Regions from separate parts of the Homo sapiens genome. Here region 2 is linked to region 1. Evidence: fine-mapped expression QTL. A gene starts in region 1. The other region holds a variant in brackets. All regions are shown on one strand. Distances are between the middles of the regions.

Region 1 (15,302 bases):
ACAAAGTTTTTTCTTTTTTTCAGTTTATTTATTGAAACTTTACACATACACTGTTTGGCTGTAGAATTCTAAAATCATATTTTCCAAAATGTTTTTTTTTTTTTTTTTTGAGACGGAGTCTCGCTCTGTCGCCCAGGCCGCACCGCGGACTGCAGTGGCGCAATCTCGGCTCACTGCAAGCTCCGCTTCCCGGGTTCACGCCATTCTCCTGCCTCAGCCTCCCGAGTAGCTGGGACTACAGGCGCCCGCCACCGCGCCCGGCTAATTTTTTGTATTTTTAGTAGAGACGGGGTTTCACCTTGTTAGCCAGGATGGTCTCGATCTCCTGACCTCATGATCCACCCGCCTCGGCCTCCCAAAGTGCTGGGATTACAGGCGTGAGCCACCGCGCCCGGCCTCCAAAATGTTTTTAACCCAAATTGCAGAATGATTATAGCAAAGGAATACATAAGTCATTCAATTTGCTTCTCAATGTGTTAAACACAGAGAATTATTTGCTCATTTGGTAAACATTACCTCATCCGCTTCTTCACCTTCTTCATCATAAACATCATCATCAACTTCAATAGCTTCTCCAGTAAAGTATGACACTGCTCTTGGGATTATACGCTCACGTAAAAAGTGACCTATTTTGAAGTCTGTGCAAGGATTTCAGCATCATCATCCAGATCTCCACTCTCAGGAACTTCAGGAGGGGCAAACAAATTAAAGAGTCATTGGAAACTGTGTTAGTCACAGTATGAACTGTCCCACTTCCCTTGTGTTTCTGCTTCTTCTTAATGGTTTTCAAAGTGACATTCTTTCCTTTTTTCCAATCTATCTGGCACCCTGTGCAACCCATAATTTCTGGTCCATCAAAAGAAAAGGGATCAGAATCATCTGGTTCTGACCTCATCCTGTATGTCTTTGACAGCATTTCATTTGTAAAATATTCATTGGGTTCAAAGTGAAATTCTAAGACAAAATTCATAGGCTGGTCAGCATCTGAGAGCTTCACTTTAGTATCTTTCAAGTGTTTCAGAATAGGTTCATCATGTTGTTGAACCATATCACTGAACAAGTCAACATTCTTAGAAACAGTTAACCAAAATTCAGGAATTTCTTTGGGGTCTTCTTTTTCTTCATCCTTTTTCTCATCTTCGATCTTGGCCTTTTCTTTCAACTCCTCTGAAATCTCATCTTCTTTATCTGGTTACCATTCACATTGTTCTTCTGTGGGTTCATAAATTTCATTAATAATCTCAAATCGCTTATCAAATAGAGGCTGATAGAGAACAGCATATTCCTTTCAAGATCGTGAACTTCCTCATAGAATTTGGTTTCTATCTGTGCACATTTAATTTAACTTGCAGGTTTTTGAGAGCATTCACTCGTCTTTTAACTACCCTAGGCAGGCTTTCAGTGTATCCTGTTGGTGTTTCTACCAGAACATCAAGTCTTTCTTGAAGGACTGCAAGAATCTGAGGACTTTGCATTATCTGAACAGTTAGCTGATGTGCTTTGATTTTTGTTTCTTCACCAGTTTCTTCTTCATGTACTTCTTCAACATCATCCAAATCTCGATCAAGTTCAGATTGTCAGTGTCTGCCATGTTATAAGAACTCCAAATATCGGCAGCTAGTATGGGAAGCCAGGAGGCCTGAGCTGCGCAGGCAGTGACTCAGGGCGGCAGTGGCGGCAGGAGGAGCAGGAGGCGGCACTGCGAGCAAATGGTGCTAAAAAAGAACAGATCAGTTTAACTGATCAATTTATTTGAAGTGATATTAATAAAAATACTTCCCATTATTGTAGGGAGACATTAATGTGTAATAATTAAGAGTCCAGCCTCTAGACACAGATTACCTGAGTTTTAATATGAGCTCTGACACTGACTAGCCGTGTGACTATGGTCAAGGCACTTCATGTCTCAGTTTTCTCATTTGTAATTTGGGACTAATGCTTAAAATAATACTTGGTGCACAGAAGGAACTATATAAGCATTAACTATTATTATTATAAATAGCTTTTATTTATGTTAAAAACACTTTTATCCAGTGTTTGCTACTTGCCAATCACTGTATTAAGTGCTTTGTGTGTATCATCTCAATTAATCCTCCTAGCAAACCACTGAAGTAGGTCCTATTAACAACTCTATATGAGGTATTATTACTCTTTACAAATGATGAAGTCATTTACAACTTTACAAATGATGAAATCAAGACTCCAAGAGTTTAAGTTATTTGACCAAGATCAAATAAGGTACAGTCAGAATGTGATACAAGTTTATGGACTCTAGTTACTCTATTATGTTATTCTTGGAGAACCATTTTTGTTTTTGTTTTTGAGATGGCGTCTTGCTCTGTCGCCCAGGCTGGAGTGCAGTGATGGGATCTCGGCTCACTGCAAGCTCCGCCTCCTGGGTTCATGCCATTCTCCTGCCTCAGCCTCCCGAGTAGCTGGGACTGTAGGCACCCACCATCACGCCTGGCTGATTGTTTGTATTTTTAGTACAGACGGGGTTTCACCATGTCAGCCAGGATGGTCTTGATCTCCTGACCTCATGATCTGCCCGCCTCGGCCTCTCAAAGTGCTGGGATTACAGGTGTGAGCCACCGCGCCCGGCCTTGGAGAACCAATTTTAACATGTATTGAGTATTATAAAAGCACCCACTTCAGGCCTGGAATGTATTAAATGTCACTTAGTATCTAACAACCTTCCCACCTCATCCCTGAGGACTTGAGTACTTGGCTCATGGTATTTCATTTATCAGCCTCTCAGTTCCTTCAATATGTCCCCTGACGGCATAAATCATCCACATCGTCCACCAGCACCGGTAAACATACTAGATCTAATCATTACTTGGAACTGTTCTACTTCTGAAATGGTAAACTCTGGTTATTACCAAAGACTTCTTGGTTCTTTCTTACTCAATCCTGTAACAACAGCTCTTTAATGTCATACATATCTCCTTTTCTTTAATTTGTAATTTTTCCAGTCTATTATTCTTCTCAAACCTCTTACACCTTTTCCACTGCCTGGATTCTATGATTGCTGTTTTAAAAATTTTCTTACCAATACCGTGTGTTATTTTCCTTCTTGTACAACTTCCAGAAAAACTTCAAAATTGGGTTGGTGTTATGCTTTTCCCCTTCTACCTGACTGATTAAATTTTGATGGAGAAAACCACATAATCATGCAAGCTCCATCACCATACATTAATGGTCTCCAACCTCAGCCAGGCCCTCAGCATCACTTATCAATTCTCTGAGTGATTTTCTACTTTCATTTTTCAACTCTCATTTTTCCTAATGACTATTCCAAACCTTCACCACCTTCTTCAAGCATCCTTTTCAAGTCCCATACCTTGAGTTCAGTAAACAGCCTTTGCTCCAAATTCATCAAGATAATTGGGGGCTTTAGTTATTGGAGTTTTAGAGATCCATCCTTGGCTACAACTTTCTGGTTCCATATTATTCCTGAGAGATCGCTTCCACTTTAATGGTATAAACACTACTTTATGCTGATGACGTTTAAATCCGTATTTCCACTTGGAGTTCTCTACATAGTGGACATCTGTGGTTGGAGGCCCCATAGTGTCTTAGTCTGTTTCTGCTGCTATAACAAAATGCCTTAGATTGGGTACTCTTTAAGCAACAGAAATTTATTTCTCATAGTTATGGAGGTTGGGAAATCCAAGATCAAGGTGCCTGCAGATTCAGGGTCTGGTAAGTGCCTACTCCTTACAGATGATGACCTCTCTGTGTCCTCCCACGGCAGAAGGGACAGAAGGGGCTAGCTAGCTCCTTGAAGCCCTTTTATAAGGTCATGAATCTTGCTCATGAGGGTGGTCCTCATGACTTAGTCAGCTTCTAAAGTCTCCACCTCTTAATACTATCACCTCTTAATACTATCACCTCTTAATACTATCACCTCTTAATACTATCACCTCTTAATACTATCACCTCTTAATACTATCACCTCTTAATACTATCACCTCTTAATACTATCACCTCTTAATACTATCACCTCTTAATACTATCACCTCTTAATACTATCACCTCTTAATACTATCACCTCTTAATACTATCACCTCTTAATACTATACTCAATACTATACTGACCTTGTGTTCACACAGCTCCCTGTTCATTGCACTGAAGATGTCTCCTTGTACTTACCCACGTGTGTGTCTGTATCACAGTTAGACTGTGAGCTCTTTGAAGCTTGGGACTGCACATTGTTTCTTAATGTTGAACAAATGGATGAATGATTCATTAATGAAAAACTGTTTTACACCTGAAATGATTTCTCTGCTTTACAAAAAAAGGGGGAGAGGAAGTAATTAATATCAACAAACATTGTGATTTTTTTCTTAGTCTGACTATGAGTAACAGTAGGCATAGTGAATTCAAATGGCACTGTGAGATCTGGAGGTGCACAAAGTGCATTATGTCCCAGGAGAAGAACCTGGAATTCTCTGTAGCCACAATAAATTTGCAAGACTTCTATTAACATCCACACAAAACTCTCATTTCAGTTAAATCCTCTATAGAAAGACTTACTTGCCGAATGAAAAATCGTTTACCATAGCTTGTTAATAACATATAGATTCTTGGTCTCCAAAAGTGAACAATAGAACAGTGGAGGACAAACTAGAGTTAAGAGTTTTTTTCTGGCTGGGTGTGGTGGCTCACGCCTGTAATCCCAGCACTTTGGGAGGCCAAGGCGGGAGAATCATCTGAGGTCAGGAGTTCAAGACCAACCTGGCCAACATGGCAAAACCCCGTTTCTACTGAAAATACAAAAATTAGCCGGGTGTGGTGGCACGTGCTGTAATCCCAGCTACTTGGGAGGCTGAGGCAGGAGAATCGCTTGCACTCGGGAGGCGGAGGTTGCAGTGAGCCAAGATCGCACCATTGCACTCCAGCCTGGGCAACAAGAGCACCCCAGCCTGGGCGACAGAGTGAGACTCCGTCTTAAGAAAAAAAATTGTGTTTTTTTTTTCCGTCCTGTACTGACTTTCTTTCCAGGGGCTTTACAAAAACCCTGAATCTAGCTAATGCAGAAAGCTAACCTGCTTGAACAATACCACACTTTCAAAGCATTTCTTTTTAAAATTCACGTAAGAAGGTAAGGGAGGACTGGCATATTTCTCCTGAAGTTCAGTACTGAGTATTTATAAACTTAACTATTATTAGGGATCCTTTTGTAGTTAAGCTAATAGTAAGTAATGATGATGGGGAAAAAAAAGAGCTAACTGCTAATAATAACAATTTATAAAGAAGTTACAGTCCTTGAATGCCCACTGAGTGGCAGGTGCTTTTCACAAAGTATCGTATTTACGCTTCACAGCAACATTTTGAATAGAAATTTATTTTTCCTTTTTCTGTTTGAACAACTGAAGTTCATTGAGTTCAGATAACTTGGGGCAGGTCCAACGGACGAGTTGGAAAGACTCTGGGGCCAAAGGCTCACACCACGCCTCTCCTAGCCCCTGAGTTTTGCTACCTGCTTGCGTTTATGTGCAGGCAGGGCGGGTGGGTGGTGGTGGGGGAATCAGATGAAGCTGCCTAAGGAATTAAACATGGAAAGTGGTGGAAAGGCGAAGGAGGTATAAGCGGTGGGCCGCTGGAACCCTAAGAGAGACCAGGCAAGAACCGGGAGAAGGGATGCACCCGTTGGCGGCTCAGAGAACTTAGGTAGAGGCGAGGGGCGGGGCGGGGCGAGGGGCGGGGCCTGAACGAGGCTAGGGCGGGGCCCGAACGAGGCTAGGGCGGGGCCCGAACGAGGCTAGGGCGGGGCCTCGGGGGACAGAGTCGACCATTTGGAGACCTGCCAGAAGAGCCGTCTCTCCAAGGGAATGAAAGGTGAGGGGAGCGTGAGTGCAGGCATGATGGGAATCTCCGTGACTTGGTAAGGCAACTCACCCTTACCTGTCCTACACCCAAGAAAAGCCTCTTCTATGCTCCCCTGGGGTATCTCTCTTGCAGAGTAGGCAGGTCAATGACGAGGAGAGGGTCCTGCCCAGAGCGTGCCCCCCTCCGTCACTTGGTACGGCCCGTGCCCCCGCCGCTGATCTGGCAGGCTGCGCGCGCACACTCCGGCCGGGTGCGGGCCGGCGGGGCACAGCGGCCTCTACGGCCCGCCTCCGTCAGTCATTCCCCGGTCCCTCCTCCCGCTGCTCGCGTGCTCCGGGCCGGCCCAGCACCCTCCGAGTTACGTGCCCGCGCTCCCCGGCGGGGAGGAGCGCAGCCGCGGGGGCGCGCCCCGGTGACTCCGCCCCTCAGCTCCCCTCCCCTGAGCCCGGGAGCCCGGCTCGCGCGGCTAGGTGCGAGGAGACCCGGGACCCCACGCCCGCCCGCCCTGCCCAGCGCCCCAGCCCCGGCGTGCGAGGCGCCGCTCCCTCCTCTGCCCTGCGCGGTGCATGGAGGGGCCCGTTCGGATCGCAGCCGCCGCCACCGTAGCCGCCGCCGCGCGCGCGCGGGGGGATGACCTGGGGGTGGCTTTCCGAGCCGGCTGCAGCGCAGGAGGTCTGGAGGCTTAGCCAGCCCCGCGGAGAGGTGCGGGGGTGGGGGTCCCGCCGCAGGGTCGGAGGGAGGGGTGGCGCGCGGGCACTGGGCTTGGGGGGCCTTGGCTTAGGGGACGGGAGGTCCCGGGGACGGGCGGGCCGGCGTTCCCTGGAGGGCGTGGGGGTGCAGGGCTGCGTGCGGGGTCTGGATGCTGATGCTTGCCCGGCGGGGAGCCCCGGCGTTCCGCGTCCTCGGGGGCTCGGAGGCACCTCGCGGGAGGAGGCGGGGTGAGGTGTCAGTGACACGACGAAACCTCTTCTTGACGATGGTCCTCGGGGGCAGGTGAGATGCCGCAGAGCGGGGAGCTAGGGCGCCCGCGCGTTTTCCCAAGGGAGCCGGGTCCCTGGCCTCTCTCAATCTCCATCCCTGCAGAGCGCCCGCGAGAGACAGTGATTTATGTGTAGGGAGAAGCAAGAGAAATTTCCTGCACAATGTATCTTTCTCTGCCTTCACAAGACTCACTGACTTCCCAGCCCCAGGGAGTGTATTTTTCCTTCTCCTCTGTAAAGCTTTCTGTGGATTGCATTATCATTTGCTAAATACATTACAGCTCGCTATTTATTTCAGTCGGCAGCTTCCAGACCTTTGTTGCTTTCTCTCCACATCTAGGAATTTCAGCAATAAATCACTGAGGGGGATAGATAGACTCTCTTGCCCTTCCCTTCATTGTTCTCCCTAACCCCACCAAATCAGGTGGAAGGCTCTCCAAAAGGAGCTGTTTCCAGAATGCCTGCCCTTCCTCATCAGGACGACAGAGGGTGGCAGGTGCTTTAAGGGCAGACTGCTTTCCAGTGGGAATCCAGAATTTAGAGAACCTCATCAACAGAAAGTCAGCCTTTGTGTCCCAAACCAGACACCTTGAAAAACAGGAGGTTGGACTAAAAGCTCACATGAGATTTATTTTCAGGCCTATGCCAGTAAAGATGAAAGACGCCAAGTCAGTGAATTCTGATTCCTTTCGGCGCTGATAACATAACCCTCAAATTCCCAACTGACACTTGGCATACCTAGTGGACAGTGTCTCCAAGGAGAGGAAGGTGGGGAGGGTGTTAGAAAATGAAATGAGTTTATTGTCAGCATAATTCTAAACATTCTATGACATTTTGTAGTTCTCCCCCACCCTCAGTCTATTTTTAGCTGAAAATTTGGGGATAGTTCAACTTTTAAGATAAGATGAAAGAAAACCTTCAAAAAATTTTCTGGAAATTTTAAATTAGTGCTTAACTAGAAAGCATTCTTTGGAACCCGAGAAGCACCAAATACTGCAGTCTCTGTTATGCACATGTTGGAATGAACTGCCTCATACTTGAAGTTATATGAGAAGGATGGAGAAAACCTGTTTCATTTTGTAAAGACGTGCCCTGGGTGTGTGTTTGGCAGTGTGTAGAACAGAAACATTTATATTTCTATTAAGAAACACACAAATGTATACTGTTTAACTTTCATGCAAAAACTTCCCAGTGTTTGGGAAATCTGTCTTTGTTTGAATAGTTTAGTCAGCCAGGAGAATCAGTTACTAGAGGTACTGTGCTGTTGTTTGTGTAATAACTCACTTGGGATGCTTTGATTGATTGCCATGGTTCTCATCAGCCTCCTCTTCTGTGCAAAGTACTTAAACAGCTCTGACTCTCAAGCCTTCAAGTACAAAGAACCCTTAGGACTTGGATACTGATCTAGCTTGTGTAGCTTGGCTTCTAAATCTAGCTTACGCCTTGCTTTCTTTGCAGGTGGTTTGACTTTGCAGGAAAAGAATTAAGTTCACTTTAAGATAGGACTTTCTCCTCCAGATCGTCAGGGTATATACAGCTGAAGGCAGTAGGTAGGAATAGGAACTAATGTCCTAGGGCTTTGTTCTAAAGAGAGCAGGTAAAAATTTGTTGACTATTTCTTGGGCTTGCTTCTTATTTTCCCACTTCGCCCATCTGCCTTCATGACTTTGTAGACAATTTCATGTATGGTTTTGTCGAAATGTAAGTTGAAGTAAAATTTTCCTTCTGTAGAATTTTTTTTTTTCCACGAACGTTTAGACTAAAAATTGGTGATTGTTTCGAAGTTAAATACTAGGGAAATGATTTCAGGAATTAAATATTATCGTAGTAAAAATCAGGGAAGCGTTAGAAAATAAATAATGAGTTGAAAAATGTGTTGCTTTAACGTGTAATGATATGAGCCAGCGCCTTGTGATCAGCTATGGCATGATGTAGAAGTATGGGTAAGACAATACAGTGGAGCTGTAGATGAGCTGCGTACATGGTAGCCCCCCTTTAAGTAAATGAACTTAATACAAACTAATTAGATTAGAAACAGAATTTGGAGTATGGTTGCCAAATATTTTGAGTTGAAGGACTTGCTTTTTTACAGTATTTTTTAATGGGGAATTTTTTCAAGAAATTTCGTGAACTTGAATTTGAGAATGTTTTATTTTTACTTAAATTTTTATATTGTATGTAATCATTCCATGTGATAAGTTTTTGTTGTGTATTTGGCACTAACTCACTTTCAACAGCACAGGGGAGGGCTTTACTTGATTCTTTTTTGTTAAAAAGAAGGGATGGTGTATGGAATATTCTTAATGTCACTTGAAAAATATTGGATTACAATTAAATGAAAAACTGGTTTCTTGGTTTTTTTTTTTTTAATCCTTCAAGTTTTCCCTCATTGCTTGTGCTCTTTCCCCCATTGTCAGGCTTAAAACATACAGTATCATTGTCATCTGTCTCCTGAATAATGGTCCTGAGGTGATATTATTAATGTGGCTTTTTAAAATCAAGCTAATTATACTTGCCTAAAAGAGCCACATGTGTGTGATTCTAGCTGCCTGGTGCCTTTTGAGAGCCCTGGAGACAAGCTAGTGAATAGAGCTGAAAATTCATTCTGTATTTGATTAAATGGAACAGACTCGCTGCTCCTTACCCCAGCGGGGGCTATGAGATCTCTTGATCCCCGAAGCGGCTCCAAGACCCTGGGAATTCCATTAGCGAGCACCTGAGGAATTTCTGCCCTGCAGTGCCTTTTTTGTATGTGTGTATGTGTGTGTGTGCAGAGGGAGTGGAGCAGAGCGGGGATTGGGGGGATGCGGGCAGGGGGGGTTGAGGGGGTGGAGGGAAGGCTACATTAGAAGACTCCATATGTTGGCAGATCTAAAATCAAGGCATGACTTAACAGCTTATCTTGTAAGAGAAAAGCCCAACCCAAAGGCAGATTGCTAGTCCGGACTTTATTACAAGCAGGACTACAGTGATGTGTTTTCAGCACTGAAGTGAACTCCAGTGTAAGTACAGAAAGTGGCTTCTCTGCTTTCCCTCCGAAGCACAAGCATATACACGTTGCAGACTTGGTAAGTTTTCTTTGAATGATCTTTTGATAAATATGTAAAATTATCTTACTGTTTGGTCTTGCCTGTAAAGGCTGATGTATCGTTTTAATAACTTTCAAACTGAGAGCAAAATCAGACTTCATGTGAAACAAATGGTTTTGCAGTGATGAAATGCTTGTTTTAATAGGCATATTTTAGTTTACTATTGATAGAATTTGATTGTTTCTGTTACATTATTATTATTATAGAATTCTAATTTAGATTATGTCTTTTCTGTTGTCTTTTTAAGAATTGTATCATTTCTAGTGTTTCTGAGGCATTACTTTGCAGACTTGCTAGCAGCGCCAAGTAAATGAAAATCTATCTGCCAAAAACATTCTGTAAAATCTTTGGAGCAAAATTTTTGAGAAACATTAGTGTGTCTTCCTTCCCAAGTCCCTTTTCCCCTGCCTCAAATAATGTTTGGGCACAAACTTTTTTTCAGAATATTAGCCCAGTTTGTTTCTTGTGTACTTTTCAAGGAAGACCAGTTCTGAATGGTGGATGGTGTAGTTAATTGGTTTTCATCTACCAAGAATGTGAATTCCAATGCTCCTGGTTTTCAGCTAATGCAGAATGCAGTAGCATATTTGATGGTTCATTTGATATATTTTGTTTCCAAGTAAAGTCGTGTTGTAAATAGTGCACAGTCTTTTCCGTCCTACTCCCATGTAGCCCTCTACCAAGTTCTCCTCACAATACAGTGTGTTCAGAAAATAAAGAAGCCTTTTTGAAGATATGTTTAGCTTTTTTCCACCTTAATCCTGGGCATTTCTCCTACTACTATGGCCAGATTGAAAGGACCCTTGAATGAATTGGAGTAAACACTGCAGTTTGTGCCTGTCCGCATTCACAGCTGTTTAGTCGCTTTGCTGTGCGGTATATTTTGATGGCCAGAGAGAATAAAAAAACTAGCCCAAAGAACATTTTGTTCTGCTGTATATCTGTTGGAATGTGAGTAGGGACTCCAGTGCTTAAGAGCCACTGATGTGCCTTTCATCTTACTCGAGAAAAAATATATGGGTTATATTACTGAACTTAGCTTACATATTTTGTTTATGTTTTGTTACTTGGAACTGTGAGGCCAATTTTATTTTTATGTTACCCTAATACAAACAGAGAATTTGGACGCTGACATAGAGCTTGCTTTTCAGCTATTCTTGTTGTAGACCAGCTCACTTCTTGTTATTTATGTGAGCCTGGGCAATGATCTTGACTTAAGCCTTGGGGGTCTTTGTCTGTAAAATGGGTATAATAACAGAAATTATGTCTTACCATTGTTGTGGGATTAAATGAGATAATGAAAGTCAAGCACTTGGCATATAGTAAAACCTCTGTAAATGTTAGCTGCTGTTATTTTTATTAACTCCTCCTGTATATGTAAGTGTACATGTATTTCTCAGAAGCTAGTAATAGTGCGGGCACGTGAAACAATACAGCTTTCTTAAATTTGCAGCTGAAACTTAGAAGGCACTTGGACATTGTGTGTAATTTTTTTCCAGTTGAGGTGTAACATAGTAATATCACAAGTGTACAGCTAATGTATACTAAGTGAACAGCTAGATGAATTGTTACATATGCACATGTCTGTGGTAACCAGTACCCAGATGGAGATATAGAACATTTCCTTGGCCTTAGAAAGCTCCCTGGTGCCCATCCCAGGCAGCCCTCCCTCTTGCTAGCAGGCAGCAGCTATTCTGAAGAGTTGGAATAGATGAGTTTTGCCTGTTCGTGAACTGTATGAACATGGACTCCTACAGTATGTAGTCTTATGTTGGAGTTCTTGCACTGCTCAATAATGAGCATTGTAATAGACATAAGCCTGTGAGATTTATTCATGTTATTGAATAACATTTATTTATGTATACAGTACTAATTCATGCTTTGTAAATTGTTGTAGAGTCTTTTGTGCGGTTTGAAATTCATAATAATTCATTTTATTGGCACATTGGATACACAGTCTTTGGGGGAAAAAAGAAAATAACACTTCTTCCTACATTACTAGAAAATCAGATCCCAATGGCTATCTTAGGAAAACAACCATGACCTCATTTTTATTCACAGAACTGGGTTTATTCACTACTTGAAGGTATAATTACCTTCAGTTACAATTCCATAAACCAAATACTTTGAAAACTGTATTCATTTTTATGTGTGTGTTTTTAGGAGGGAGCCTCAAAATAGGGGAAAAGGACCATCTAAGGTAGCTTATATCCTTCATGCTTAGGACTAAATGCCGTAATCAACACTTAGCGTTGTACAGAAGTAACCACCAGTCCAGCATTAGTATAATATTCTTTGAGTTTAAAATGAAACAGTACAATGCTTTTCTGAAGAAAAAAGAAAAGTCCACCATAAAAGGAAGAAAGTGGAGCTAGGATGTTATACTGCAGGAAGATTTTGAGGAACAGGACCAAGCACTTATATCAGGAAGAAGAGTTTTGGCCACTAACCTATTAACAATTGTGGTCAGGCTATGCCTATACATTCAGAATTTGTTTGTATTGTTGAAATTCTCTAATATGCTAAATAAAATTTATTTCACAGACAGACAAGATGATTCAGTAGATGAAATCAGAAGGGTTTTTGTTTGTTTGTTTTAAATTTTGGAAGGGACTTTGGCTGTGGTTAATAGCTTGTATTTCTGTTATTGGAAATGTTGATTAAGGATTTTGTGGGTGTTCTGCTTGAACACTAGCCATTTTTCTCTCAGGAGACATTGTATTTTTCAACATTTATAATTTTATTAAATCTGACTATTCATAGCTCTTGACACAAGGTCATTCTTCACATACAGCCATATGCAGGATGGGTTCCTCTGGACTGGAGAAGGGCAAATTGTCCCCTTTTCTTCCTAAATCAGACCATCCGTGGTCAGGATTTCATTGGGGGTTGGGAGCGTTGAAATAGTGATACATGATTCATCTTTTGATCTATAGGCGTCCTCAAAGATGCAGATTATGTTTCAGAAGAAAGAAGAACTATCCAACAAATAGAGCTGCCTCATGTGAAGCAGTGCTGTTTGGAAGGGGCATGGACTCCTGATTCCTGGAAGTGTTGTAATGGCATTTGCAAAGGCTGCTGTGGGAAGAATCTCTTTCTTGGGTGCAACATTGAACCAAATAACCTCTAAGGCATTTGTAGGACTGAGGTTCCATGAAATAGGCTTTTATGGTATGCCTAGGCTACATACCCACCACGTACATGATTTTGGAGGTAGGAAATATGTTAAAAGTTACCAACAGCCATTGGATAAATACATTTTTTAAACCAGCTCCAGTTTAAAGTTGGAGATTGCCTCGACTTGCTGGCTCTTTTCACTTTAAATGTAATCCTTAGTTTATCACTAACAAGTAAATGTCGGGTATTCTTTCTTCCTTACTTAAATAGGGACTTTTTCAATATTCTAAGTGTATTGGTATCAGAAATGATAATACTTAAAAGTATAGCATGTACTACCTTTTTATATAGGTACACATCTGAAGCCATTTGTTGGCCCAGTTATTTATTCATTCCTACAACAAATTATATGTAAACATTAATAAATGTCCCTCTTGTCCCTCCTCCACTGCAACTTTTCTAAACTTGAGTTACAAGAGAGATAAATAACTCATATAGGAGGAGAAAGGCCGGTATCAGAGACGTGTCCAAGTATCAAAACCATATTCAAGATCTTTTCTGGGATCCATAGATATTTAACCATGTACACATCTTGTATCTGTAAATATAGTACTTTATGTTAATCACTGATATTTAAAATGATGGAAGGAACTGTGGGATCCTGAACCACCAAAATAATATTTTCTCCATTTTATAAAACAGAAAAGTATATTGAATTTTTACTGTTTTATATTTATGTATGCCCATCCATACCAATTCCATCCTCCCTGTAGCTTAGAAGTGGGCCTTCTTTATCTCTTGTCTGTTACCATTACCTTACCCCTCCATCCTCCTCCTCAAACTTTGGGAGAGGGACAGAGGAGATTCAGCATGTGAGATGAAAAAAATGCCTTTGCAACTCCTGCTTAAACTGCTACTAACTCATCCCCTTGTCTTCAGTTTTGGTTTGCCCCCTTCCAGATCATTGATTTTTCTTACATTTTGCCTGAGTAATGATCTTTCTGAAATGTAAATATGTGATCACGTGACTGCTTTCATTAAAATCCTTTAAAGTCCCTGAATTGCTCACTTGTTGAAGCCCAGGTCTTTAATTGGATGTACAGGGTTATATGCCTACTGGAAGCTTCTGCCATCCCGGCTGCTTTGCCTTCCATGAATATACCATGCTTTCTCGCAGGCTGGAAACGCATCTCTCCTGGCACTGATACGTATCATAATTGCATACGTGTCAGTCTCCCCTTTATTCCTTAAGGACAATGTGATTTTCCCCTATGTACCATTGGCCCACCCACCCCTTTCTTTGCACTCTGCTGAACAAGTACTAAACACTCAGATATCCTGGATGGCATTAACGTGCATTTGAATTTCTGGGTGAGCGAGTGTGTTCAACTGCATATTCTGATTCAGTAGGTCTGGGGTGGGGCCCAATATTCTTCCTTTCTAACAAGTTTCCAGATAATACTGATGAGCTGGGTGGAGCACACTGAGTAGAAAGATGCTGAACCATCTTCTCTAGATCCATGAATGATTTCAACACACGATTTTGCTCGTAAAAATTCAGTGACATCAATGACTCTCAAGTTCAGGGAGTGATACCACAGCTTCAAGTAATGAAGATAAACGAAAGCTTTAGATAAAGAAAAAAACAGTTACATATTGAAGATGCTGGGACATGCATTATCACACTATGACTGGAATCCTTGTCAAATATTTTGAATATTTTAACAATTTTATATATTTAAAATGTATGTAGTAGTTCTGTGCAACATTATTCAGTGCCCAGAGAGCTGATGTCATGTTTTGTCTTTTTGTATTTTGCAGGGGTTCTCCTGGGTATATAGGTACTAAAAAACATATTCAGGATTGTGTCTCTTGCCAGGGAAATTTCTGACAGTTACTGGCTTTTTACAGTATCAGAATAAAAGTAATTAGAATTTTTTATTTTACTGTAGTTTGGTATCTGTTCAGTGAGTAATTGTACACACTGCCTGGTTAGAGGTAAAATTGGCAAGGGGAACGAATGTTTAATGGATAAAATACTGCTTTTATCAGGCCATGAAATTATTGTAGTGACATCAGAACTTGGCAGTCTCTTATTCCAATAAAAAGAAAAATAGCATTGCAAGCTGGGGATAAGACATTTTTCCTGCCCATTTAATTTGGCTTCTTTTCATGATTTTGGCCTTAGGATGTGGGTATGACAAAACAACAACACAGTGAATAACAGGCAGTAACAATTAGGGAGTGAGCGTGGTTTCAGCTGGAATGGACATAGGGTTT
Region 2 (15,302 bases), 86 kb after region 1:
TTTGTATTGAATGATGCCTTCCAAGAGATAGGGGGAGAGATGGTGGCTGCATCAGGCTGAAATGGATGGTGATCATTTGATTTTCTAAGTGGTTTTAATGCCATCGCCTTTAATTGTGTGAGTGCGTGTTGAATCATGAAAAGAGAAGTATTAATCTGAAAGGGATGGTGATCATTTGATTTTCTAAATGGTTTTAATGCCATTGCCTTTAATTGTGTGAGTGCGTGTTGAATCATTAAAAGAGAACATTAATCTGGTCGTCCCAGCCATATTAATCAGATTAAAGTCATCCTACTTTGTGACCTGATAATGTTTAAAAATGGAAAATTCTCATGGTGGTGTTCATTCAGTCATTTATTCAAAAGATAATCATCGTCTTCTGTATACCAGGCACTGTTCTGGACAGTGGAGATGTAATGGTAAATAAAATAAACACCACCTCTGCCCTCTCAAAGTGTGTAGCTTAGTGAGACCACAAGCAGGTGTACTGAGACTACACACCTGGGCGAGAGCACACAGTAATGTGGGCAGCTAAGGAAAGGAGGGACACCTAATCCAGCCTTGGCAAGCTCTCCTACCTTCGAAGAATTTATCCAGACTCCAACAACAAATCCTGTACAGTTTGGACACTCTAGTTTCTAAGAGATACTTTACTTTTTCTAAATATATCTGGTAGATGTGCCTCTGGAAATCAGTTTTGAGGCAGTCATTTGTATGCTTTTAATAGAAGAAAATAGAAGGCTGGGCGGAGTGGCTCACGCCTGTAATCATAGCACTTTGGGAAGCCGAGGTGGGCGGATCACGAGGTCAGGAGATCGAAACCAACCTGGCTAGCACGGTGAAACCCTGTCTCTACTAAAAATACAAAGAATTAGCCGGATGTGGTGGCACGCACAAGCTACTTGGGAGGTTGAAGCAGGAGAATTGCTTGAACCCGGGAGGCAGAGGTTGCAGTGAGCCAAGATCACGCCATTGCACTCCAGCCTGGGCAACAAGAGCGAAACTCCATCTCAAAAAAAAAAAAAAAAAAAAAAAAAAAAAAGAAAATAGAATCACTTTTTGCCTTTGGTACTCCACACCTTCCAAATTGGCTGTAATGACTAAGGAGCTATATGAATGATCAGTGACTGTATATACAACTCCATCCTTTTACTTAACAGAGTTGTTTATTGCTACTTGAAATACCCCACCTAAAGCTAGTCTTTTGTTGTCATTTTATGCAGTTTTTTTCAGCACTTAGAAGTATAATATATAGGAGTTTAAGCACTTTTTCCTAGTATTGCCAGTACTCTGATAGTTTCAGCTTGCCCAATATATTCATTCTCTTTTGAGTAATTTCTCCCTAGGTGATTTTTCTTCCCGTTAACAGAATCATAATTAACTCAGAGTTCACAGCTATCTCTACACTCTATGGAAAATAATAGCAGTAACTTTATTAAAGCATGTCTTACAAGTAGGCTTTAAGTGAACATTTTAAAAATGTTTTTATTTTAGTCTATTTGTAGTTTCGTAGGGGTTTTATCTGTAAGACCTTCTCAGCAAGAAGATTGTCCTTTTTAGTGTCTTACTGTGTGCGTGTGTGCGTGTGTGCGTATGTGCATGTGTGCATGCGTGTGTGCGTATGTGCATGTGTGCGTGCGTGTGTGTGTGTGCGTGTGTGTCTTTTTTGTTCTCTTTTAACAGAATATGACCCACCAGGATATCTCTACCAAGGATCAGATATGAACGGGCAGATGGTGGACTACACCACTCTCTCAGGAGCAAGTCAGATAAATGGAAATGTTCACGGAGGCTTCCTAACCAATGGCGGTCTCAGCAGTGGCTATTCCCACCTTCACCATAAGGTCCCCAATGCAGTCAATGGAATTGTGAATGGGAGCCTAAATGGAGGGCTTTACTCCGGGCACAGCAACTCTCTAACCAGGACACACGTGGATTTTGAACATCCTCATCATCTAGTGAATGTAAGAGACCTAACTATAAATAAAAGCCCCTCTGTCCCTCAGGGTGCCAAGTACTAGAACAGGGACAGCATGCTTGGCTTTGTTCAGTATAGAAACCTCACAAGTTTCCTCGAATGGAAACAGCATGGATCACTGGCAGCCCTTTGATCCAGAGTAGTCTTTGTAAGTTGTTTTCTATTGCCAGGTAATAGTTATGTTCATCAGTTTAGTTTCATTTTAAAATTATTTAACACTGAAAGTGGAATACCAGCAGTGAACAGACTGGAAGTTGTTCTTTAGATGAAATGGAAATACCAAATACTTTAAATTTGATTTATCGAGAGCAGGGTCTTGAAAATGCAAATGCCGAAAAGAGTCAGGCAGATCAGGAAATTGTGGGAGTGAGATGGTAGCACTGGAGGCGATGGCCACCTGGAGAGCACAGACAGTGTCTTCAGGAAGCAGCCGCGGTTTGACACTTACAGTCGTCATGGACTGAGGGCGCAGTGTTGCCAAATTTTCTGATTTTTCAAAACCTCTGTAAATCCAAGTGAAATTGACAGATTTTTACATGCTGGCACCTAATTCAAATTTTTGAAAACATACGTAGGCCATGCCAAACATCTCTGCAGGCCACCGGGTTGTGACTTCTGACCTTTCATGGGCTTCTTTTGTTTGTTTTGCCCAATATGTTTTGTTGTTGTGGCTGGTAAGCTTTTTACATTTTACAATGTTAGTATTCTTTAGCCACACAAAGAGTGATAAACCCTTAAGACAACCTTATTTCAGAGATAACTAGTTGATAGCGTTTAATTTTTGAAATGGTAGTAGAATGACTAGCATATTTTAGACTTACGTGGGGTTCTCTGCACTAGAAAGTTTGATTTATGACATTGTTTGGATGCACATCTATATTACTTTTGATCAAATAGATAATTTGTTTAATTGATGGAATTAAGCATTCAGTTTTTGTCATTGTTCTGATTACAAATAAATTTACCATGACCCACAATGTGCTACAATTTGAAGAAGCTTAGAGTTTTTTTTCCCCCCATCTTCAGTTTATTAAAGATTTATTAAAATCTATTTGGAGAACAAAACTAATATATACTCATATTTTAAAGCTAGAAATTGAATAGCTTTTATGTGACCTAGCTTTTGTATGTTGTGGAAGAAATATTAATTTGCTTTAATGCATCTCATTACTAAAAGAGAATCATGATTTCACTATTTTGTGTGGAAAGATACAGCATGTATTCAGACTTTCTAAGCTTTTTTGGTCACCATTCCTAGTCCAAACTACTACCATTGTCCAAGAAAACTGAAGGAGAGAGCATTAACATTTGAATAGCACACACTGTTTCCATAAGAAGAAAACATAAGGCCCATGTTCGCTTTAGTGTTTGAACACGGAACCTTGGGTTTTTTGAACAATGAATTTCTATTTAAATAATAGGTGCCCCATTTGGTGTACAATGTCAGAAGTTATCTGTGATTCTAAATTATTCGTTTTCTTACTTTTCTGGGTGGGGGAAATAGAGAAATTTTAACAGTGTTAGTGACCCTAAAAATCATTGCACTAACTTCAACGTGTTGAGGGATTCAGAGAATCCGTAAGTCACAACGTTACCCTGCAGGTTGTGAACTTCATTTTCTGAGCCTTTCAGGTTTTCCCTCAGATGGAATATAGTATAGGAGAGTTCTTTCTCTCGATATGTTCTTAATAATTCCTGTTGCTGGTTGGATCAGAAACACTGAAGGAAATTTTCAGGACTTTTGGTTTGCTTAGATTCTGGCTACTGTTATGAAATGAATGGAAATGGAAAGTATTCTAGGAAAAACAATTGCCTGAACTTTTCCTAACCTTGAAGGCCTGCTTTGGGTTTGGGTGCAGTGTGACAGCCTCTCCCACCTTTTATCAAATTCAGTTCTGCTGTTTTTCTTCTGAAAGCAGAATTCTGCCTCTGACTATCAGGCTAGTTTAATTTTTAACTTCATTTTTGAAGAACCTTGCTGTCTGTCAAGTGAACATTTTACAATGAGGTATGTGTTAATCTGGGCATTTTTCTTAATTGCTGGGCAGTTTCCGCCAAAAGCAACATCCAAATATTAACACACCCCCTCCAAGTCATTGCTGGCTGAAGATCTACTCCATCTGGAAAAATATAGCATGCTTTAAAACTTAGCGTTGTCAAGTGAACAGACCTAATTGAAATAATTACAGGAAAATGAAGATGAGTTTATCATGTGACATCATCTACACAGGTTTTACACCCTGTTTCTCCAACTGGTATCACATGAAATTCTTCCCTGACTGCCAAGAAAGGGAAAATGAATGGAGGCTATAACATATAATGTATTTTGAGCCCACTAGATTTGAAGGGAAGTGACTAAACTTTTCCCTTCATTTATTTACCTTTGTCTAGTACAGAAATACGTAGGAAAACATGGCAGTGAAGTTTTTGGAATACAGTTAAATCTAATGCAGAACTCTCATTCACTCCTTTGTGAATATGGGTCAGTGATATTCACAATGACGTTGCTCTGGGAGTTGGTTAGAATATACTGTGTGCCCATTTATGGTTGACATGGCTCATGTGTATTTGTGATTATTTGGCTACTGGTCTGTGAGTACCTTCAGCATTCCTTCTTCTTTTCTTTTTCTCTGACACTCCTTCCTGTCCAGGGTGGTGGAATGTACACGGCCGTGCCTCAGATTGACCCTCTGGAGTGTGTTAACTGCCGAAATTGTCGAAACAACAATAGGTATGTTAATAATGTGTCTGCACAAGCTGTTGTGAATAAGGCATATGCATCCTTTTATTTTTCCCTTCAGCAAAGAAAGTTCTTGGAATTTTACCTAGGATATAAAGTTCAGGATTTGCAATCTTAAATTTAAAGCTGTTACTAATTTTTTGCCTCTGCTTTCCAATTTTTGTCTTTTTGTGCCTCGGTTTCTTCAGCTATATAGAAACCATCTTAAAGGCTCTATTTGTCACTGAAATATTATTATAAGGCTTAATGTTTTTGAAAATTTTAAATTAGAGTCATTCTCTGTTATAAAGACTTTATCTTTTCTCACCTTTTATTTTCTACTCTATGTTATGGGATGTTATGAGGATGAATGACAGTGTTTCTGAGTGTTGGGGGGAGGGGGGAACCCTCTGTATATAGTAATTTTTTTCACAGTAATGTTACTGAAATTTTCCTACCAGATTATCCAGTGTTTTTTTTTAATTCTTAAAATCTTAAGAAAATTAAGCAGCAAACCCTTGCTTTGAATTTTGTGTTTTAATTTTAAAAGTGGTATGTACTCACAATATTTCAAACAAGATAGAAATATGGAGAGCAATGTGCATTTAACACATAGGATACTCGGCACACTTTCCTACGACCTCTCTCTATGGTAATCCCAAGGATTACCAAGCTTTTTGTTGTATTAAAGTTGTTTCAGAAATCTTAGTTCTTTCTTTTACATAATGATGTTATTGAATTACATGGTGTCAAAAGTCCTTCCTTCTCAGTCCTAAAACTCTACAACCAAAAAGATTATGTCATAGTTAGTACATAAAATAACTGGAGTATGGGTGGGAGTTTAGATATTTTATTATTGAAATGATGTTTGACCTATATATTTAAAATGGATTAACAGGTTAAGAGTTGTCTCTGGGAGTTATTGAAACCAGAACTTGAAGAAGGATCAGGCCAACCATCAAATTAAAAATACGTTGTTCCAGCCTGTGTTTTGAGAGTTGCAGAACAAAAGCAACAGAGCTTCTTGGAGATTGTTTGTTATCATTTACTTAACCCATTTCAGGGTGTCTATAAAAGAGCCATCTGCTTCTTTTATGTACTAAGGTTTGCTTGTTACGTATTTAAATTCTATATGACCCTGGTTTTGCAAATGTTCATAACATTGAAACCACATTTTTGTCTTGAGCTTTTCATGGACTTTACCGTAGTTTGTTAGGCAACGTGCTAAAGACCTGGTAAAGGTGGTTCATGTACCTGGCGAGTAATCAGACGGATTTAGTTACAAGTGGTCTTGCTTAAAATTTTAACGTGTTTTCTTTTGTGGTTCTTGGTCATCAGCAGATCTTGGTTCTCCTGGACAATAGAATGGTATAACGACAGGATCTCTGGTCTAAGAATAAGTAGACCTGGGCTGTGACATAGCTTAAACCTGTGATCTTGCGAAAGTAACGTAATGTTTCTGAAGCTATTTCCTTAACTAAAAAGGGGAAAATTGTCCTAGGTAATGTAAGATTGCTCCCAACATAATCTGACGGTAGTCTCTGGCAATTTCCTGCCAATCATGTCTTTTTGATGAAGTATCATCTTAATATCAAGAATGCATCCCATTTCCTTAGAAGGACTTATATGACCTCTGCCATTTAAATGACCTTGGCTTTGTGGCTATTTGTATGTGTAGTGTGTGTGTGTGTGTGTGTTTGTGTGTGTGTGTGCATGTGTGTGTATGTAGTATTTTAGTATTTTCAAGTTTTTATTATACAGTTTTTTTTTCCTTTAAGACAATGAACAATTGTATTTCTATTAATTTTCAAGTTAATGACTTACTACATTTCATGTGTGTGGGTTTTACTGTTATCTGGGAATTTAGGTGAATTCTCTTCAGCTTGGAACACCAGATTCTTTTTCTTCCTGGTTTCAATTTTCTTCCTCATGAGAATCTGCCTGTTTAGTGCAAGTCTTTACTTGCCTGCATTGCCTTCAAGGTTAGCCAGTGTCTCACCTGGCTCCCAGGAGCAACTGTATGATTTTGACACTCAATAATTGGACAGATAAGTATCAATAAGTACCTACCTTCAGCTCTAGAAAATTTGAATTATTAAATTTAAAGATTTTAAGTCTTTTCACTTTGGAATTGAGAACAGGTATCTCCTCTTAAGATCTTACAAATGACAAAATTTGTAAAAAGCTGTGAATGCCGAAAGGTAGATGATACGTGGTTTACTCTCAAAATATAGAAAATTATAGTCAATTTATGCTTTTAGAATATCGACATTGTTACTATGAATGAGTTTGCATTTCTGAATATCAGCTGAAATAGTGTAAACATAAAAAGAAGCGTGATTTCAGTTAAGTTATATGAGGGCTATCAAGTGGGCCTCATATGATTTTTGGCTGTTCAGTCAAACAAAACAAAACAAACATTTACTGAGCACTACCCAGGCTCTGGACTAGGTTCTGAGGTGTTTCCCCGTAGAAGGAATGTAAGAACAGTCATGGACGTAGAAAGGATAATGTTTACATAAGAATGAATAGGCGACTTCAGTGGTTCTCAAACTTTAGCG[T/G]GCATCACTTGAAACACTTAATAAAAACGCACATTACTAGGCTCTACTCCCACTCCTATTCTTAGACCAGAGTTTCCCATTCAGCAGGTCTAGGGTGGGGCCTGAGAATTTGCATTTCTAATGAGTTCGCAGATGGTACTGATGCCCATGGTCCTGGGACCATGCTTTGAGAACCGCTGGAATAATTTGATCGGCTGTGAAGTGCAACTAGAGAATAGTAGGATATTGAAATTGGACAACTGGACTGAGTTTATATAGTGGATAACCCTGAATGTGAAGGTTTAGTAGTTTATTTAATAAACAAGTCCTATTACTTAATAATAGTCCTATTAAATATTATTTATTAAATAAGCAAGTTTATTTAATAAACAAGGCCTTTTATTGAGTGCCTGTCATGTACTGGGTACTGGCCTAGGCCCTGCCTTCAGAGAGTCCATAGTCTAACAATAGTGATTCTCAGACAGAGGTAGGGATATAGTGAGTAGAGTTTGAAGAAGCACGTTGAGTTTTATAATTTTATATTTAAAGAATAGAAAAAAATCTCTATGTCTGTAATGTCTATGTATACAAGGGTATGCAATTTTTATATTAATCAAAAGGGGATATGCGTTAAATGTTGAGAAACACTGGGGTAGCAGCATCATAATTGTTGCAAAGCTTATTGAGAACAGGAATGATCTGTTCAGAGATATGCTCAGGCTGGATGAAAGATGGCAGTGCACAGGAGGGAAGGGAGGGAGGGGATCAGTGAGACATGGGGAATGGGGATGAAGAGGAAGGGATGAGTGAGACTGCAGACATGGAGTCTTCAGGACTTGGCCATTGACTGACAGGGATCTAGAAAAACAGAAGATTCCAGATGTGTAAGAAGTTTCAAACATGGATGATCTGGGTGGTAGTCATAGTAATAAGAAACTTAATAAAATGATACATCATAAAAAGGTGATAAATTTGGTTTTAGAGTTGAAGTATGAGTTGATATCTTAAGGAGAAAGATGAAAATGCTGGTCTTGGCTTCAGGGGGTAGAATGGAACTGTGATACAGATTTAGGACCATTTTAAGTTCTATCCAAGTAATAGAACTTAAAAACAGATGAGACACCAAAGGAGACAATATCCTTGGCAGATTGATTATTTTTATATATTTAATTATTTGATGCATTTATTTGCTTTTATTATGTATTTAAAGTGATTAGACATTCTTTTTATAAGACATCATATCTTTTGTTATTTTTTCTTACTGCCTTAATACATCTTCAGAGAATAACAGAGATGGGAAAAGGAGAATGATAAAATAAGGAGAGTAAAAAAGAAAAAAAGAATTCCCTCCCTCCCTCCCTCCCTCCCTCCCTCCCTCCCTCCCTTCCTTCCTTCCTTCCTTCCTTCCTACCTACCTACCTACCTACCTACCTACAAATGTTTGCTGCAGGTCTCTAGTGAGCCAAGCACCAAACTAGGTACTGGGGATATGGCAGTGAGCATAACAGGCATTGCTCCTGCCTGCGTGGAGCTTAGAGTTTAATAGGGGAGACATATCTTTTAAGAAAATGACATAAATCGGCGGGGTGCAGTGGCTCACGCCTGTAATCCCAGCACTTTGGGAGGCTATGGCGGGCGGATCACCTGAGGTCAGGAGTTTGAGACCAACCTGGCCAATGTGGTGAAACCCCATCTCTACTAAAAATACAAAAATTAGCTGGGCATGGTGGCAAGTGTCTGTAATCCCAGCTACACCGGAGGATGAAGCAGAAGAATCACTTGAACCCGGGAGGCAGAGGTTGCAATGAGCCAAGATCACGCCACTGCACTCCAGGCTGGGCAACAAGAGCGAAACTCTGTCTCAAAAGAAAAAAAAAATGACATAAATAATAAAAATGAATATGTAATTAAATCTGGATGCTTTAAAGGAAAAGTAAAGAATGTGGGAGAGAGGAAAGCCCTCTGTAAGCAAGTGGCATTTTGCTGAGCTCTGAAGATTTATAAAATTAGGTCTAAGGGAAGGAAATAAGTTTAGAGCTTTCCAGGCAAAGGGGACCATTTATACACAATCTCTAAAACAGAATGCCTGAATCCTCAAAGAACTTAAAGAAGGCCAACATAGCAGAAACCTAGTAACTGGAGGAGTCAGAATTAAAAGGCGAGTGAAATCAGATCACACAGAGCCATGGCACATCTGTGGATGGTTTTAAGCAGGAATTCGTTTTTGTTTTTGTTTTTGTTTTCTGAGATGGAGTCTCACTCTGTTGCCCAGGCTGGAGTGCAGTGGCACGATCTTGGCTCACTGCAACCTCCACCTCCCGGGTTCAAGCAATTCTCTGCCTCAGCCTCCCAAGTAGCTGGGATTACAGGTGCCCGCCACCACGCCCGGCTAATTTTTTGCATTTTTAGTAGAGACGGGGTTTCACCATGTCAGTCAGGCTGATCTTGAACTCCTAACCTCATGATCCACCCGTCTTGGCCTCCCAAAGTGCTGGGATTACAGGCATGAGCCACCATGCCCAGCTGAATTTGGGTTTTTAAAGAACACTCTGGATGCAGTTTGGAGACTAAATTGGATGGGGCAGGAGAGGATACCTGGAGACCAGTTAGATGGCAGTTGCAGTAGTCCAGATGAGAAACAGTAGACTAGCATAGTTGTAGGGAGAGAAAGAGAAGAATTTTGAGAGAATTAGGATTTAGAAGGAGATGAGTCTGAATGAGTCTGAGGGATTTAAAAAAAAAAAAAAAAAAAAAAAAGACCAAGTAATTGGTTGAAGAGGCCAGTGGAGGAAGCAGTTGAAGATGATGTCTAGGTGTCTGGGCGCAGTCACTGAGGCAGAGAACACTGCAGGAGATGAAGAGGAGCTGCCCCACAGTATACTTCTGGAGAGTTGTCCTCTGAGATCTGGTGGTGCCTCTGCAATTCGCCTTCTTTATTCCACAGATACTGAGAACTGGAGAAGTCTTGCATGGGGCCTTTTCCGTACGGACTCTTACCTGCTCTGTGCCCTGCCACTCCAGGTTCTTTTTTCTCTGCCTTCTCAGTTGTAAACTTAAGCATATTTCTTGGAGTGAGCTTTTAAGAAACATTGCCAACCCTTGACCCCTTTTATCACCCATCTATTTTAGTAATAACCATCTGGAGGGAAAACGTTGCCTCTATTATGTAAATGAGAGTATGATGTGAAAAGTTGAGAGCAGGTGAGGGGAGGGTGCACTGTATAGATCTGTGGGGAAGTTGTAGTTGATTCTGGGGCTCTTGTGACATGCTGTAAATGACCGCTTGCCTCACTGGGTTCCATGACCTTGAATCCTTTTTAGTTTCTTTTGATTTTCTTTTGTTTTTTTTGAGACAGAGTCTCACTCCAGTACCCAGGCTGGAGTGCAGTGGTGTAGTCTTGGCTCACTGCAACGCCGCTTCCTGGGTTCAAGCGATTCTCATGCCTCAGCCTCCTTAGTAGCTGGAATTACAGGCGTGTGGCACCATGGCTGGCTAATTTTTTTGTATTTTTAGTAGAGACGGAGTTTTGCCATGTTGGCTAGGCTGGTCTCGCACTCCTGGCCTCATGTGATCTGCCCGCCTCGGCCTCCCAATGTTCTGAGATTACAGGCGCGAGCTACCGCGCCTGACCCCTTTGCAGTTTTTAAGAGTAATATGTAAAGCTCACTATGAATGCCTAGAAAGAAGCATATTTAAGGCAGCTTTGCAGAGAGCCAGTTCCTTACACCAGAGACCTAATCAAGAAATCCTTGTGCCATTTGGGCATTTCAAGAGTTAAATGGATTTTAATCAAAAAACATCGAAAGCTTTCTACCCTTCTCTTCTCTTCTCCTGAATTCAAAAGGCAGTAATGCAGTTCTGGATATGTAATTAAATGTGGCTTATCAGTTGCTTGGCTAGTTTAATGGAAAGGGATTGGCATTAAATCTGGTCTTTTTTAGCATCAGCCTTGATAATTTGTAAGAGAGAGTAGAGAGGACACTGATGAAATTCACAGATGAACGGACCGAGAGACCCCATCAGGAAGGAATGAGAAATTAACTCGAAGGGTCGTAGAGAGACTGGAGATGGACAGGAAGTCTCCCAGCGAAAATCAGCTTGGAAAAATTATATAATTCATCTGGGAAAAAAAGTACAAATTACATGGCTGATAGTCAAGAGAAGTAGTAAAACTACTGGGAACGGTGCTTTAGAGAACAGAGATACTACAAATGACTTCAGAGTTTTGTATAATGACAACCTTAAAAGTCTGTGTGTTGGATTTGGGAATGCTCTTTCACCAACTTGAAACCCTCCGTGGATGTCAGATGTCCTCCGATGACAACAACATGTAGAGATGAATATGAGAACATTAATTATTATTATTTATTTATTTATTTATTTATTTATTTAGAGACAGAGTCTCGCTGTGTCGCCCAGGCTGGAGTGCAGTGGTGCGATCTCGGCTCACTGCAAGCTCCACCTCCCAGGTTCACGCCATTCTCCTGCCTCAGCCTCCTGAGTTGCTGGGACTACAAGTGCCCGCCACCACACCCAGCTAATTTTTTATGTTTTTAGTAGAGATGGGGTTTCACTGTGTTAGCCAGGATGGTCTTGGTCTCCTGACCTCGTGATCCGCCCGCCTTGGCCCCCCAAAGTACTGGGATTACAGGCGTGAGCCACCGGAGAACGTTAATTATCATAGCAGTTCTTTCAGGCCTAAGGTTTGATCTACCCAGTTGGTTTGCTAAGTATTAAAACAACAAGTTGTCCAGTTCACCTGAGCTTTTTCTTCCAGCAGAAAACAGGCATTCAGCTTCTCTTCCATCTATGGTAATCTCCCTATTTCCCTAAGAAATTCAGAGTGCTGTGTTGAATTTTAAAAATTGATCAGTGCTTTCCTTTTGGGGAAGTTATATATCTCCCCAAGTCTGTCTCGTACTTCTAAGATGGAGACCTAGCGCCTGTTGTCAGGGAGTCCAGCTTTTTGTCTTTCTTTATAAGCTCGTGTGTGTCTGTCAACTTGCCATGTTCAGGAATACACTCAGTCATTTGTTGTCACTCAACATTTACTGTCATGTTTTATGTGACAGCTGCTGATAGATTAATTCCCAAAAGGAAACTCCCACTCTAATGCTGCGGTCATCGCAGCATCCAACAGAGCAGATATCGAGAAGGGAAGACGGCCATGGCCCTGGAGCGGTGCCATCAGGGTTCTTTAGGTAGTAACTGATAAGCTCCCGAAAATAAGAGCTGGGTCAGCAAAATGACACAGTGACTAGTGGAAACAGCAGAGGTGAGTGGAATTTTAACATAAACTACTGGCCGGGTGCGGTGGCTCACGTCTGTAATCCCAGCACTTTGGGAGACTGAAGCAGGCAGATCACGAGGTCAGAAGTTCGAGACCAGCCTGACCAACATGGTGAAACCCCATCTCTACTAAAAAAACAAAAATCAGCCAGGCGTGGTGGCGCGCGCCTGTAATCTCAGCTACTCTGGAGCCTGAGGCAGGAGAATTGCTTGAATCCGGGAGGCAGAGGTTGCGGTGAGTCGAGATCGCGCCACTGCACTCCAGCCTGGCGACAGAGCAAGACTCTGTCTCAAAAAAAAAAAAAAAAAAAAACATAAACTACCACCAAGATGTAACTATTTCCGAAGTCTCAAGAATATATGCATGAGAACAAGTATCACACATCCAAGAAATTCACGGATAGTTCTTTCCCTCTAGGCATAATCAAAAGAGGAAACTTAATGCAAAAATTATATAGTCATCTAATCAGAGTAATTCTGTACATAATCATGCTTAACAAATATTCAACTGTGTAATCAGAAGTGGAATACTTCGAATACATTCTAGAAAATATTTCAGAGGTGCTGTATAGTTTTACAAGAATATTCTTCCAAGCACAATCCTACACTACTCTTCCAATCTTCTATTTCCTAGTCTGCTATTCAGAGTGTTGCTTAAAGAATATTTTATTATTTTTTGTGATACCACAATAGTCATTTTCCTATCTTTCAGATTGGTCAGACAGGCCTTTCCTGTGTTACTAAAAGGTATCTTAGTAAACTAACAGGTCCCAGACCACCTGAGGTTTTACAAAACAGCTTAGATTTTTGTATGTAGCAAGATGCATAGAGCTCCATTTACTCAATGTTTTTAAACTTAAGATTAAACAAAGTAGTTTCATTGAGCTAGAGAAAACTCAGTAAAAACTTTTATTCCACCTTAAGCCAGTAATAACTGCATTTGAAAGACCATTTGAGAAGCCTAAGATAGTGAAGTTACAAACTATTTGCATTATATAAACTGTAAAATGTGCATTGTGAGAGCATTTTATTGAATGTCATATGTTTGCAGACATTTGTCCTGTTTTCTTATTTACTACCTTAGATTTGTCTCTTAAGTTTACATATGTACAGATATGATTTTTGTGATCATCTAATTGCTTTGGAAATTTTAACTAAAGCATTATTAGTAAAATATTTGTTTTCACGGTCCAGGCGTGGTGGCTCACGCCTGTAATCCCAGCACTTTGGGAGACTAAGGCAGGCGGATCACCTGAGGTCGGGAGTTCAAGACCAGCCTGACCAACATGGAGAAACCCTGTCTCTACTAAAAATACAAAATTAGCTGGGCATGGTGGCGCATGCCTGTAATCCCAGCTACTCGGGAGGCTGAGGCAGGAGAATCACTTGAACCTGGGAGGCGGAGGTTGCAGTGAGCTGAGATCACGCCATTGCACTCCAGCCTGGGCAATGAGAGCAAAACTTCATCGCAATGATAATAATAATAATAGTTTTCATATATCATGTCTGGTTATATTCAGAACAGACTATGTTCCTTTTTAGCAGATGATGTTCTTTATGCCTGTATCTCAACATGTAACCCCTAAGTTAAAGCCATTTTTATGCTGACACATGTAGACATCTGGAATTGAACTAAAAGTAATTTAACTGAATCATTTACATTTGGTTAGCTAATTGGTTAATTACTGATGATTATGAGTTAAGATTCAGTGTACTAGAAAATTTTAAATCAATGTGGTTGATGCTGAAATTCAGGTCACAGTTGCTTTACAGATCTAACTCCCAAGTATGTTACCGTCAACACCACTCTAGTGACTGAGGATCATAGTTCAGAATAAAGTAAACACTGCTATGATTTCCTGTTTTACTTATCTGAAAAACAGATGCTAAAGAGTAGGTAATAGGAAATTGTACTTCTCTCTTGCTAAATATCTGGAATTTCTTTAAGAAGTGTGTGTATTTCATACGCCTGTTAGCTCCCCATAAAACCTGTGTCGACACGCTGATAACCACACTTGTGGTTGGCCCTTGCGCCTCTGTCTCGCCCGCTCCTCCAGTCCTGCCCCATGTGTAAAACTTCACTGTCACTCTGACAGAAGTACTTTACAAACTATTAGTCTGCCTTTAGACTTCATTAAAAAATCTCATTCTGTAACTTGGCTTTAAATTAAAGACAAGAGCAGAAAAAAAGAAATTAAACAGAAGGAAGCAGAAGGCTTTGAGGGCATCTCATTGTCTGGCGAGTCATCATTGTTTTGTTATATCAACATTATGAGTTCATTCAAGTTCAATCTGTATAAACAGGTTATTAATTTCTAATATTTTGTAGGGAACTGTCCTAGGTTTTCAAATTCTGGCAAATATGTGTATATGCATTTTTTTTCCTGTATCTTAATTTTATTTCTTTTAAATGAAAACTTTTCTTTCTGATCTGATACTTCTCCATCTTTAAAATATAGGTTTTAGCCAGGCGTGGTGGCCCACACCTATAATTCTAGCACTTTAGGAGGCTGAGGTAGGAAGATTGCCTGAGCCTAGGAGTTCAAGACCAGACTGGGCAACATAATGAGACCCCCTTCTCTACAAAAAAAATTTAAAAATTTTTCAGGAATGGTAGCACGTGCCTGTAGTCTGATTGAGTCTGATGCAATATGGAAGAATATACTGGGACTAGTCTCTACCTAGAATGTGGGAAGTGCCCTATTCTCATAGCCTCAGCTGCTCTGGAGGCTAAGGTGGGAGGATCACATGAGCCAGGGAGGTCAACGGTGCAGT

Alleles and levels. Alleles are on the strand shown, and positions count from the first base shown. SD is a standard deviation of normalised expression in the study named.
In carriers of allele T in region 2, the expression in subcutaneous fat of the gene that starts at base 6,251 in region 1 tends to be lower than with G alone (small effect, 0.30 SD a copy in GTEx).

What was found.
Region 2: its variant is fine-mapped to the expression of CDON in subcutaneous fat (GTEx, PIP 0.96). The same link has a PIP of 0.9 or more in sun-exposed skin.

The regions. Positions count from the first base shown.
Region 1 is chr11:126,053,815-126,069,116 of GRCh38, reverse strand. CDON (cell adhesion associated, oncogene regulated) reads left to right here and starts at 6,251. Exons shown (of 20, transcript NM_001378964.1): 1 at 6,251-6,538. It also overlaps the pseudogene NAP1L1P1. RefSeq lists silencers at 5,664-5,753, 5,824-6,493 and an enhancer at 8,694-11,957.
Region 2 is chr11:125,967,711-125,983,012 of GRCh38, reverse strand. It overlaps CDON (cell adhesion associated, oncogene regulated), which reads left to right. Exons shown (of 20, transcript NM_001378964.1): 17 at 1,684-1,964; 18 at 4,630-4,709. Among named protein-coding and RNA genes, the nearest start is that of VSIG10L2, 29 kb to the right of the region's middle. The variant T/G (reference allele first, on the strand shown) is at 7,259.